Linked DNA regions of Homo sapiens: region 2 is linked to region 1. Evidence: fine-mapped expression QTL. A gene starts in region 1. The other region holds a variant in brackets. All regions are shown on one strand. Distances are between the middles of the regions.

Region 1 (5,520 bases):
TCTGTCTCAAAAAAAAAAAAAAAAAAAAAAAAAAGAAAGTTTACGAATTTGTGTTGAGCCATATTCCATCCTGGGCCAAATGTGGCCCGTGGGTCAGGGGTTGGATGAGCTTGACTTAGGGAAATAAGAGGCCAATGCCCACAAAAGCTATCACATAAAATAATGCAAGATACAGCCAAGACAAGAAATAAGGCCTGCCAGGCTAGAGAATGGGTACTTCCTAGCCCCTCCTATGATTCAATGTCCCTCCCTCTCAGGCACCAGACCATGTGCAAATCAGGTGCCAGGAATAATTGTTAGAGTGCAAAGGGCTTCAGTTTCCCTTTTGCAAAATGATACATTCTCAGAGGTCATTAAGTCATTCAACAAACTTTTATTGATTCCACCCCCCACACCCACTCCTGGCTGAGCCAGATCCTGCCTGGGTCACGCAGACATTGATGGGCACAAAGTTCACTTAGACAAGGTCTCACCCTGGAGGGACTTCCCATCCAATGGGGGAGATGCAGGCATAAAGAGAAATGTCAGCCAGGCGTGGTAGCTCATGCCTGTAATCCCAGCACTTTGGGAGGCCAAGTGAGGCGGGTGGATCATGAGGTCAGGAGTTCAAGATCAGCCTGGCCAAGATGGTGAAACCCTGTCTCTACTAAAAATAACAAAAATTGGCTGGGTGCGGTGGCTCACGCCTGTAATCCCAGCACTTTGGGAGGCCAAGGTGGGCGGATCACGAGGTCAGGAGATTGAGACCATCCTGGCTAACATGATGAAACCCCGTCTCTACTAAAAATACAAAAAATTAGCCAGGCATTTGTGGCGGACGCCTGTAGTCCCAGCTACTCGGGAAGCTGAGGCAGGAGAATGGCATGAACACGGGAGGCGGAGCTTGCAGTGAGCCGAGATCGCACCACTGCACTCCAGCCTGGGTGACAAAGTGAGACTCCAATCTCAAAAAAAAAACAAAAACAAAAACAAAAAGAACAAAAATTAGCCGGGCACGGGGGCAGGTGCCTGTAACCCCCATGCCCGTAATCCCAGCTACTTGGGAGGCTGAGGCAGGAGAATCGCTTGAACCCAGGGGGCAGAGGTTGCAGTGAGCCGAGATCACGCCACTGCACTCCAGCCTGGGCAACAGAGTGAGATTCCACCTCAAAAAAAAAGAGAAATGTCAATCATGCAGGGAGTTGCTGCTTCCTGATGGTGTCGATGTTCAGATTAAGCACACACTGCCCTGATCAACTTCAGTGCGCACCAGATTTCAGGTCCTGGCCATATCTCTATGTTTTTTCCAATATAGACCAATATAAATGTAGAGTCTTTAAGATGAAAATGAGTGTGTATGCACCTGGGCACAGTGGCTCACAACTGTAATCCCAGCACTTTGGGAGGCCAAGGCAGGCGAATCATGTGAGGCCACAAGTTCGAGACCAGCCTGGCCAACATGGTGAAACCCCGTCTCTACTAAAAATACAAAAATTAGCTAGTTGCAGTGGCACTTGCCTGTAATCTCAGGTACTTGGGGGGCTGAGGTGGGAGAATCGCTGGAACCCAGGAGGCAGAGGTTGCAGTGAGCCGAGATCACACCATTGCACTCCAGTCTGGCTGACAGAGTGAGACCATCACAAAAAATAAAAATAAAATAAATAAAAATACCAAAAAAAAATTAGCAAAGCATGGTGATGGTGCATGCCTGTAATTCCAGCTACTCAGGAGGCTGAAGCAGGAGAATTGCTTGAACCCGGGAGGCAGATGTGGCAGTGAGCCGAGATCGCGCCACTACACTCCAGCCTGGGTGACAGAATGAGACTTTGTCTCAAAAAAAGAAAAAGCCCAGGTGCAGTGGCTCACGCCTGCAATCCCAGCACTTTGGGAGGCTGAGGTGGGTGGATCACGAGGTCAGGAGATCGAGACCATCCTGGCCAACACAGTGAAACTCTGTCTCTACCAAAAAATTAGCTGGGCATGCTGGCATGCACCCGTGGTCCCAGCTACTCAGGAGGCTGAGGCAGGAGAATTGCTTGAACCCATGAGGCGGAGGTTGCAGTGAGCCAAGATGGCACCCCTGCACTCCAGCCTGGGCTACAGGGTAAGACTCCATCTCAAAAAAAAAAAAAAAGAACCAGTGAGGACTACAGGTTTCCCAATCAACCACCCACCCTAAACAACAGTTTTGCCTCCCCTCCTGGCCACTGGGGTCCCCACTTCCCGGAACTCTGAGCTGAGTGATGTCATAGATGGATTACCTCACTAGGGCCAACGAACCGGGAATTTCAGGGACATGGGGGACAGAGAGGAATGTCTCTCTACCCCCCAACCCCCCATGTCTGTGGTGAAGTCGATCGAATTAGTGCTGCCCGAGGATAGAATCTACCTGGCTGGCTCCAGCATAAAAGGGCAGGTGATCTTAACCCTGAACAGCACCCTGGTGGACCCCATAGTGAAGGTGGAGCTCGTGGGAAGGGGTTACGTCGAATGGAGTGAAGAAGCCGGGGCATCCTGTGATTATAGCAGAAATGTTATTTGCAACAACAAGGCAGACTACGTGCATAAGACAAAGACATTCCCAGTGGAGGGTAAGGACGAGGCCAACAGCCACCCCTAGCCATGACAGGAACCTGGGTCTGGAAAATAAACACATCCGAGAGTCAATCAACAAAACTCTAGGGCTATCAGAAATAGGGAGTGGCCTGATTTCTCCCTAGGAGGGAGGCCATGAAGAACAATGACCATCAGATACACAAAACGCAAAAATAACAAGACATAAGGAGCTGATCGGAACCCCGATATTCAAAATGAAGGTTCAAAGTAGTCTCCTTGGAAAATGCTCAATCCAACAACTGCCTTTGAGAGGCCTCTGAGAAGTCTTATTCTTTTACAGATAAGTTTCACTCTGACAGCAAAACCCCAGGAGACAAAGTAGGCAGTCCTGCATTCATGGGGAGAGACAGTGGAGGTGGGCCAGGCACAGTGGTTCATACCTGTAATTCCAGCACTTTGAGAGGCCGAGGCAGGTGGATCACTTGAGGTCAGGAGTTTGAGACCAGCCTGGCCAATATAGCGAAACCCCATCTCTACCAAAAAATACCAAAAAATTAGCTGGGCGTGCTGGCACGTGCCTGTAATCTCAGCTACTTGGGAGGCTGAAGCAAGAGAATCACTTGAACTCGTGAAGGGGAGGTTCCAGTAAGCTGAGATCGCACCACAGCACGCCAGCCTGGGTGACGGAGCGAGATTCCCTCTCAAAAAAAGAAAGATAGTGGAGGTAGAAGAGCAAGGGAGACCTTCCAGAGAAGGAATAACTAGTCCCCAGTTCCACCAGGTCAGATCTGAAATCTGAACAAATGTCAGAGAGTCTGCTGAGTTGTCGGGGAAATTATATGTCCATTGCAAAATGTGTTTGTGGGGATATTCCCAGGTATTAAGCAGTCAAGCAGAACACGTGGCCAACACTTGGCTGAACAAAGTGTAATTTAATTTAATTTATTTCTGTATTTATTTATTTGTATCTTATTTATTTATTTATCTATTTTTTGAGACACAGTCTCGCCCTGCTTCCCAGGCTGGAGTGAAGTGGCACCATCTCGGCTCGCTGCAAGCTCCGCCTCCCGGGTTCAAACGATTCTCCTGCCTCAGCCTCCTGAGTGGCTGGGATTACAGGCACCCGCCACCATGCCCAGCAATTTTTGGTATTTTTAGTAGAGGCAGGGTTTCACCACGTTGGCCAGGCTGGTCTCGAACTCCTGACCTCGTGATTCGCCCACCTCGGCCTCCCAAAGTACTGGGATTACAGGCATGAGCCACCAGGCCTGGCTTATGTATTTATTTTTGAGACAGGGCCTCGCTCTGTTGCCCAGGCTAGAGGCCAGTGGTGTGATCAAAACTCACTGCAGCCCCAGCCTCTCTGGCATAAGCGATCCTCTCACCTCAGCCTCCTGAGTAGCTGAGACCACAGGCACATGGCACCATGCTTGGCTAATTTTTGTTTATTTTTTGTTTTCGTTTTTTTGAGACGGAGTTTTGCTCTTGCTGCCCAGGCTGGAGTGCAATGGCGCAATCTCGGCTCACCGCAACCTCCTGGGTTCAAACGACTGTCTCTTAAAAAAAGAACTAGCAATTTTTTTTTTTTTTGAGACTGAATCTCACTCGTTGCCCAGGCTGGAGTGCAGTGGCGTAATCTTGGCTCACTGCAACCTCCACCTCCTGGGTTCAACCGATTGTCCCGCCTCAGCCTCCCGAGTAGCTGGCACTACAGGCGTGTGCCACCACTCCCAGCTAATTTTGTATTTTTAGTAGAGACGGAGTTTCTCCATGTTGGTCAGGCTGGTCTTGAACTCCCGACCTCAGGTGATCCGCCCACCTTGGCCTCCCAAAGTGCTGGGATTACAGGCATGAGCCACCACACCTGGCCATTTTAGACTTTAAAAATTTAGATGAGATGGTCTGTTCCACCAGAGGAGTACTCTGCAAAGAGGGAACAACCAAGCACAGAACTGAGTGATAGGAGGGACTCCAGCCATGCAAATATCCTGGGGACAAATGTCAACTTACCAGACACTAATACTGAGCAATTATGTGACCTCTCTGGCTCTCAGTTAACCAATCTATAAAATGGGAGTAGGAAGAGGTCCTATTTCATAAGATTGTGTTAAGGACTTAATGATTTAATGGCACATAAAGCGCTTAGAATAATGCCAGGTATACAGTAAATGCTTAAAAATTGCTATTTCTGGCCAGGCACAGTGGCTCACACGTGTTATCCCAGCACTTTGGGAGGCCAAGGTGGGCAGATCACCAGAGGACAAGAGTTCAAGACCAGCCTGGCCAACATGGTGAAACCCCGTCTCTACTAAAAATACAAAAAATACAGCTGCTCAAGAAGCTGAGGCAGAAGAATGGCGTGAACCCGGGAGGCGGAGCTTGCGGTGAGCCGAGATCACGCCACTGCACTCCAGCCTGGGCAACAAAGCGAGACTCCGTCTCAAAAAAAAAAAAAAAAAAAAAAGAAAGAAACAGAAAAAAAAGACTGCTGGCCGGGCGCGGTGGCTCATGCCTGTAATCTCGGCACTTTGGGAGGCCAAGGGAGACGGAGGTTGCAGTGAGCCAAGATTGCACCACTGCACTCCAGCCTGGGCAACAGAGTGAGATTCAGTCTCAGAAAAAAAAAATGTTGCTAGTTGTTTTCTTTTCTTTTATTTATTTACTTTTTTGGAGACGGAGTCTCCTCTGTCGCCCAGCGTGGAGTGCAGTGGTGCAATCTTGGCTCACTGCAAGCTCCGCCTCCCGGGTTCTCGCCATTCTCCTGCCTCAGCCTCCTGAGTAGCTGGGACTACAGGTGCCCGCCACCACGCCTGGCTAATTTTTTTTTTTTTTTTTTTTTTTTTGTAGAGACGGGGTTTCACCGTGTTAACCAGGATGGTCTCGATCTCCTGACCTCATGATCCACCCGCCTCGGCCTCCCAGAGTGCTGGGATTACAGGCGTGAGCCACCGCGCCCGGCCGCTAGTTCTTTTTTTAAGAGACAGT
Region 2 (5,000 bases), 27 kb before region 1:
GAGGTTGCAGTGAGCTGAGACCACGCCATTGCACTCTAGCCTGAGTGACAGAGTAAGACTCTGTCTCGAAAAAATAAAATAAAAATAAAATAAAATAAAAATACAAACATTAGCTGGGTGTGGTGGCGGGCACCTGTAGTCCCAGCTACTCAGGAGGCTGAGGCAGGAGAATCGCTTGAATCCAGGAGGCAGAGGTTGCAGTGAGCAAGTCAACCAATGTCCGTGTTTAAGCCACACCGTCTGTGAAATCTCACGATGGCAGCACGGACAGACGCAGCCACCATCTGTGTCCACTGGTGTGTGGACCCCGAACTTGGCAGGTAGGAAGTGCCCAGTAAACACTTGTGCAAAGACTGGAGACTGACGTTAGGGGTGGGGATGAGGGAGAGATGACAAACCCGGAAGATGGAATAAAACAGAAAAACTGATGGGGTGGCAGTTTCAGCCACTGATCGAGCAGAACCCTCCGCGGAGACACAGGAGGGGGCAGCCGGCTTCGGGTCCCCAGGCTAGTCCCCAAGTGGGCAGCCTCGTATGCTGTTAGGAATTCGAGGATGGGGCCCCAGATCCTGATCACCATCTCGAGACAGTGCCAAGCTCTGGCCTGAACACCCGCAGCCAAGGATGCGCGTCACAGAGCCTGAATACCCAGGCCCGCCCACCTGCCATGACTCACTCGTCGTATTTCACGTGGTAAATGACGTCCTCCTCCAGCGCCGGCCTGGACGTGGAGCTGCAGGGCTCGTCCCGGGAGGGGGCCTTCCGCGTCACCCTGACCACCTGCGCCTCAAACCACGCCCCCATGTTCGTGTCCCGAGCATCGACGTACTCATTGACCTGTGAGGAATGAGGGAAGTCTGGCATCCCAACGGGGTGAGGAAAACTGACGGGAGACCACCTTGGTTCTCGGACACTGGGATGCTCTGGAACCAGGGCGCAAACTCGAATGCCCACAGCGAGGTTTCTCCTCCCTGGCTGGGAACCGCTGACCATGAGAAACCAGCCCCGGCAGGGGTGACGGGGATGCGGGGCCAGGGGGCATGGACTGTCTTAACAAAGGCCCCTGCGGCTCTGCTTCAGCCACAGCTGCTGGGAGGCCCTGAGAGACCAGAGCTGCCCATTTGTCAAGAGAAGCTGGAAATCCAGGCAGGGCGTCGTGGCTCACGCCTGGAATACCAGCACTTTGGGAGGCCGAGGCAGGTGGATCGCTTGAGCCCCGGAATTCAAGACTAGCCTGGGCAACATGGTAAGACGCTGTGTCTACTAAAAAATAAAACAGACTGGGTGCAGTGGCTCACACCTATAATTCCAGCACTTTGGGAGGCTGCGGCGGGAAGATCACTTGAGGCCAGGAGTTCAAGACTAGCCTGGCCAACATGGCGAAATCCCGTCTCTACAAAAAATACAAAAATTAGCCAGGTGTGGTGGCACATGCCTGTAATCCCAGCTACTCAGGAGGCTGAGGCACGAGAATTGCTTGAACCCAGGAGTTGGAGGTTGCAATGAGCCGAGATGGCACCACTGTACTCCAGCCTGGGCGACAGAATGAGACCATGTATTAAAAAAGTAATAAAATAAAATAAAATTAGCTGGGCGTGGTGGCACATGCCTATAACATCAGCTACTCAGGAGGCTGAGGTGGGAGGATCACTTGAGCCCAGGAGTTCGAGGCTACAGTGAGCTGTGATCACACGGCTGCACCCCAGGCTGGGCAACAAAGTGAGACCCTGCCAAAAAAAAAATAAAAAAATAAAAAAGCTGGAAACCCAGATCTTTCTGTGACATTTCCTGATCTTACATGGTAGCAGCAAGTTCAGAAACGTCACAGCCACTGCAAGCTTCACGGAGAAGACACCTGCAGGCCCCGAACAGGACTCTGCTCTAGAGGTCCACAAAGGAATCCCAGGGTACCATGTTCCCCTCAAGGAACGTGCAGGAAACCACCCCTTGGCCATTTCTGCCCAGCCAGAGCTAGAGAGGCGCGTGGGAAGCCCCTCCTGTGAGCCCTGGGTATGCAAAGACCAGAATGGCAGGGAGAACGTCCAACCCCAGAGCAGCTGCGGAGGGGAGGCTCACCTTGTACAGCCCCAATTCCGTCTCATCCCACATGTCCTCATCGGCTGGCCTGCTGTCAGTCTCGGCGGCCGCCTCACCGTGGGTGGAGGACTTGTCTGACTCACTCTGGCCCAGGCAGCAGCCGGAGTCGGTGTCGGAGAGCTCGGAGTCCCGCTCCTTGGTGCTGTGGGGGAGCACGAGGCTCTGGCGGACCAGGAGCTGGATGGTGTCATTCAGGCGGACCTCGTAGTCGAAGAGGGTATGGCCGTCCTCCATCTGCAGGGACACCAGAGGCAGACGCTGTTTAGCCACCAAATGCCAAGTGGGCATCTGTGGGCACCAGTGATGAACCAAACACTGTGTCCCAGCCCTTGTGGGGGGGGGGCAATCTGCATCAGAGTAAAGAGCCATGATACCTGGGCCATGCCAGGGGGCTGTCCCGCTCACAAGCGGCACCCCAGTCCCTTCCCTCAGGGTCTCAGGCCCCTCTAGCGAGGGCTTTTGGCACTGCATGCAGGAAGCACCCAGAAGCACAAAACATCATCACGGGGCACCACGCACACATGGGGGTCTTGGGAGTTTTTCCTAATACTTCGTGCTTACGGCAGCTTTTGTGACAGTGAACATGTGTCACCTCTGTCACTGCTTCTCAACCAAACATGATTCAGACCCCGGGGGACGCTGGGCCACGTCTGGGACATTTGTGGTTGTCGCCACTGGGAGAAGCTCCTAGCATGGAGTGGGTGGAGGCCAGGAACGCTGCTCGGCACCCTGCAGTGCCCAGGACGGTCCCACTGTCCAGTGTCGAGA[C/G]AGAGAGACCCTGTCCCACCTGAACAGCAAGAGGCACATGCCAGCATCCATGAGCTTCCTATGAGCTTCCTGGGTAAGGCTCCAGCGCCAATCTCGCCTGCCAGGGCACCTCCTCTGACCCTCAGCTCCACCCGCCCTTTGTGCGCTTTTATCCTGATGCGCTCAACCCCTGGGGCCTGGCTCCACAGCCTGCCCCTCGGGTCACCTGACTCAGCAGGTATGCAAGGAGGAGCTCATCACCTGAGCTGTATCTGGGGGCTGGAGAAGCCGAGGCATTTTGTCAGAAGCTGCCCCTTCACACTCCACCAACACCCAACAAGGACCCTCTCCCGGTGGTTTGCCATCTAGGACCCCCCCCTCCTGATGATTTGCCATCTAGATGCCCCCAAGGCAACAAGTTCCTCTCCCCCGGCACTGCAGACATTGGGGCCAGGTCCTGGACCATTCTCTGGGGCGGAGCCATCCTGGGCACTGCAGGGTGCTGAGCAGCGTCCCTGGCCTCCACCTACTCCATGCCAGGAGCACCCCGTAGTTGTGACGACCACAAATGTCCCCAGACATCATACGGTATGGGGTGGGGGGGTGTGAAGTCACCCTGGGTGAGACCCCCTGGTGAAGGATTCCACAGGCCCCCAAGAAACTCCTTATCCCATGATGCTGTGCCCTACTGAGGTCCCAGGAGGCTGCACGCATTAAAATCCACACACTGAGTGGGAAGGGAGAGAGGAGGTGAATCCCAGGAGCTGGGGGTCCCCCTGGTTTCCACGTCTGCCCCGTCAGGAGTTTATCCCGTGCCTGGTGCGAGCAGGATTGGACTCGGTTGGTTTCCATGTAATTAATACAGGTTTCTCGACCTAAGCATGGCTGACATTAGGGCTGACCACTCTGGGATGGGCTGGGTCTCCCCCTCTGGGCACTGGACCGTGGGGCCGTGCTGGGCACTGCAGAGGCACTGCAGCGGCCCTGGCCTCCACCAGTCATGACAACAACCGATGTCCCCCAGACATCACCATGTGTCCCCTAGAGGCAGAAATGCCCTGGTTCAGGAGCATCCTTAGGAAAAGGGAGGAGAGAGACCTTAGGAAAAGGGAGGAGAGAGACATACATAGAATGTCAGCTCTTCCTCCTTTCGCCCCTTGGGGATCCAAGGCCTGACGGCTGTTCAAATGCAAACAGCATGGGGGTCACAGTGAAGGCCAAGGCCCTTCTCTGCAGGCTTTCTTTCTTTGTTCACCATAAACCTAAGAACCTGATAAAGGCTGACTCATCTTTTCCAGAAAAAAATTTTTTTTTTTTTTTTTTTTTTTGAGATGGAGTCTCACTCTGTCGCCCAGGGTGGAGTGTAGGGGTGTGATCTCAGCTCACTGCAATCTCCACCTCCCAGGTTCAAGCGATTCTTGTGCCTCAGCCTCCTGAGTAGCTTGGGACTATAGGCATGAGCCATCACACCCAGCTAATTTTTGTATTTTTAGTAGAGACAGGGTCTCGCCATGTTGGCCAGGCTGGTTTTGAACTCCTACGCTGAAGGGATCCACCCACCTCGGCCTCCCAAAGAGCTGGGATTACAGCATGAACCACAGTACCCGGCCTGTTTTTTTTTGTTTTGTTTTGTTTTGTTTTTTGTTTTGAGGCGGAATCTTGCTCTGTCGCCCAGGCTGGAGTGCAGTGGCACGATCTTGGCTCACTGCAAGCTCCGCCTCCCAGGTTCGCCATTCTCCTGCCTCAGCCTCCCAAGTAGCGGGGATTACAGGCACCCGCCACCAAGCCCGGCTAATTTTTGTATTTTTAGTAGAGGTGGGGTTTCACCATGTTAGCCAGAATGGTCTCGATCTCCTGACCTCGTGATCCGCCCACCTCAACCTTCCAAAGTGCCGGGATTACAGGCGTGAGCCACTGCACCCGGACTTTTTTTTTTTTTTCCTTTAGAAAGGATCTCACTCTGTTGCCAAGGATGGAGGGCAGTGGTGCAATCGTAGCTCACTGCAGCATCGAACCTTGGGCTCAAGTAATCCTCCTGCCTCAGGCTCCTGAGTGGCTGGGACCACAGGCACACATCACCCATGCCCAGCTAATTTTTTTTAGAGATGAGGTCTTGCTGCTTTGCCCAAGCTGGTTTTGAACTCCGGGGCTCAAGC

Alleles and levels. Alleles are on the strand shown, and positions count from the first base shown. SD is a standard deviation of normalised expression in the study named.
For the expression in CD8 T cells of the gene that starts at base 2,247 in region 1, allele C in region 2 goes with a lower level than allele G (small effect, 0.35 SD a copy in CEDAR).

The links. PIP is the estimated chance that this variant, and not a neighbour inherited with it, causes the effect. A credible set is the group of variants that fine-mapping cannot tell apart.
Region 2: its variant is the best candidate, but not a certain one, in a credible set for the expression of ARRDC5 in CD8 T cells (CEDAR, PIP 0.71).

What each region holds. Positions count from the first base shown.
Region 1 is chr19:4,899,623-4,905,142 of GRCh38, reverse strand. ARRDC5 (arrestin domain containing 5) reads left to right here and starts at 2,247. Exons shown (of 3, transcript NM_001080523.3): 1 at 2,247-2,570. The coding sequence starts at 2,318. It also overlaps a transcript of UHRF1 not described here.
Region 2 is chr19:4,926,553-4,931,552 of GRCh38, reverse strand. UHRF1 (ubiquitin like with PHD and ring finger domains 1) reads right to left here. Exons shown (of 17, transcript NM_001048201.3): 3 at 2,077-2,331; 4 at 677-837. Among named protein-coding and RNA genes, the nearest start is that of MIR4747, 3.6 kb to the left of the region's middle. RefSeq lists an enhancer at 473-972. The variant C/G (reference allele first, on the strand shown) is at 2,866.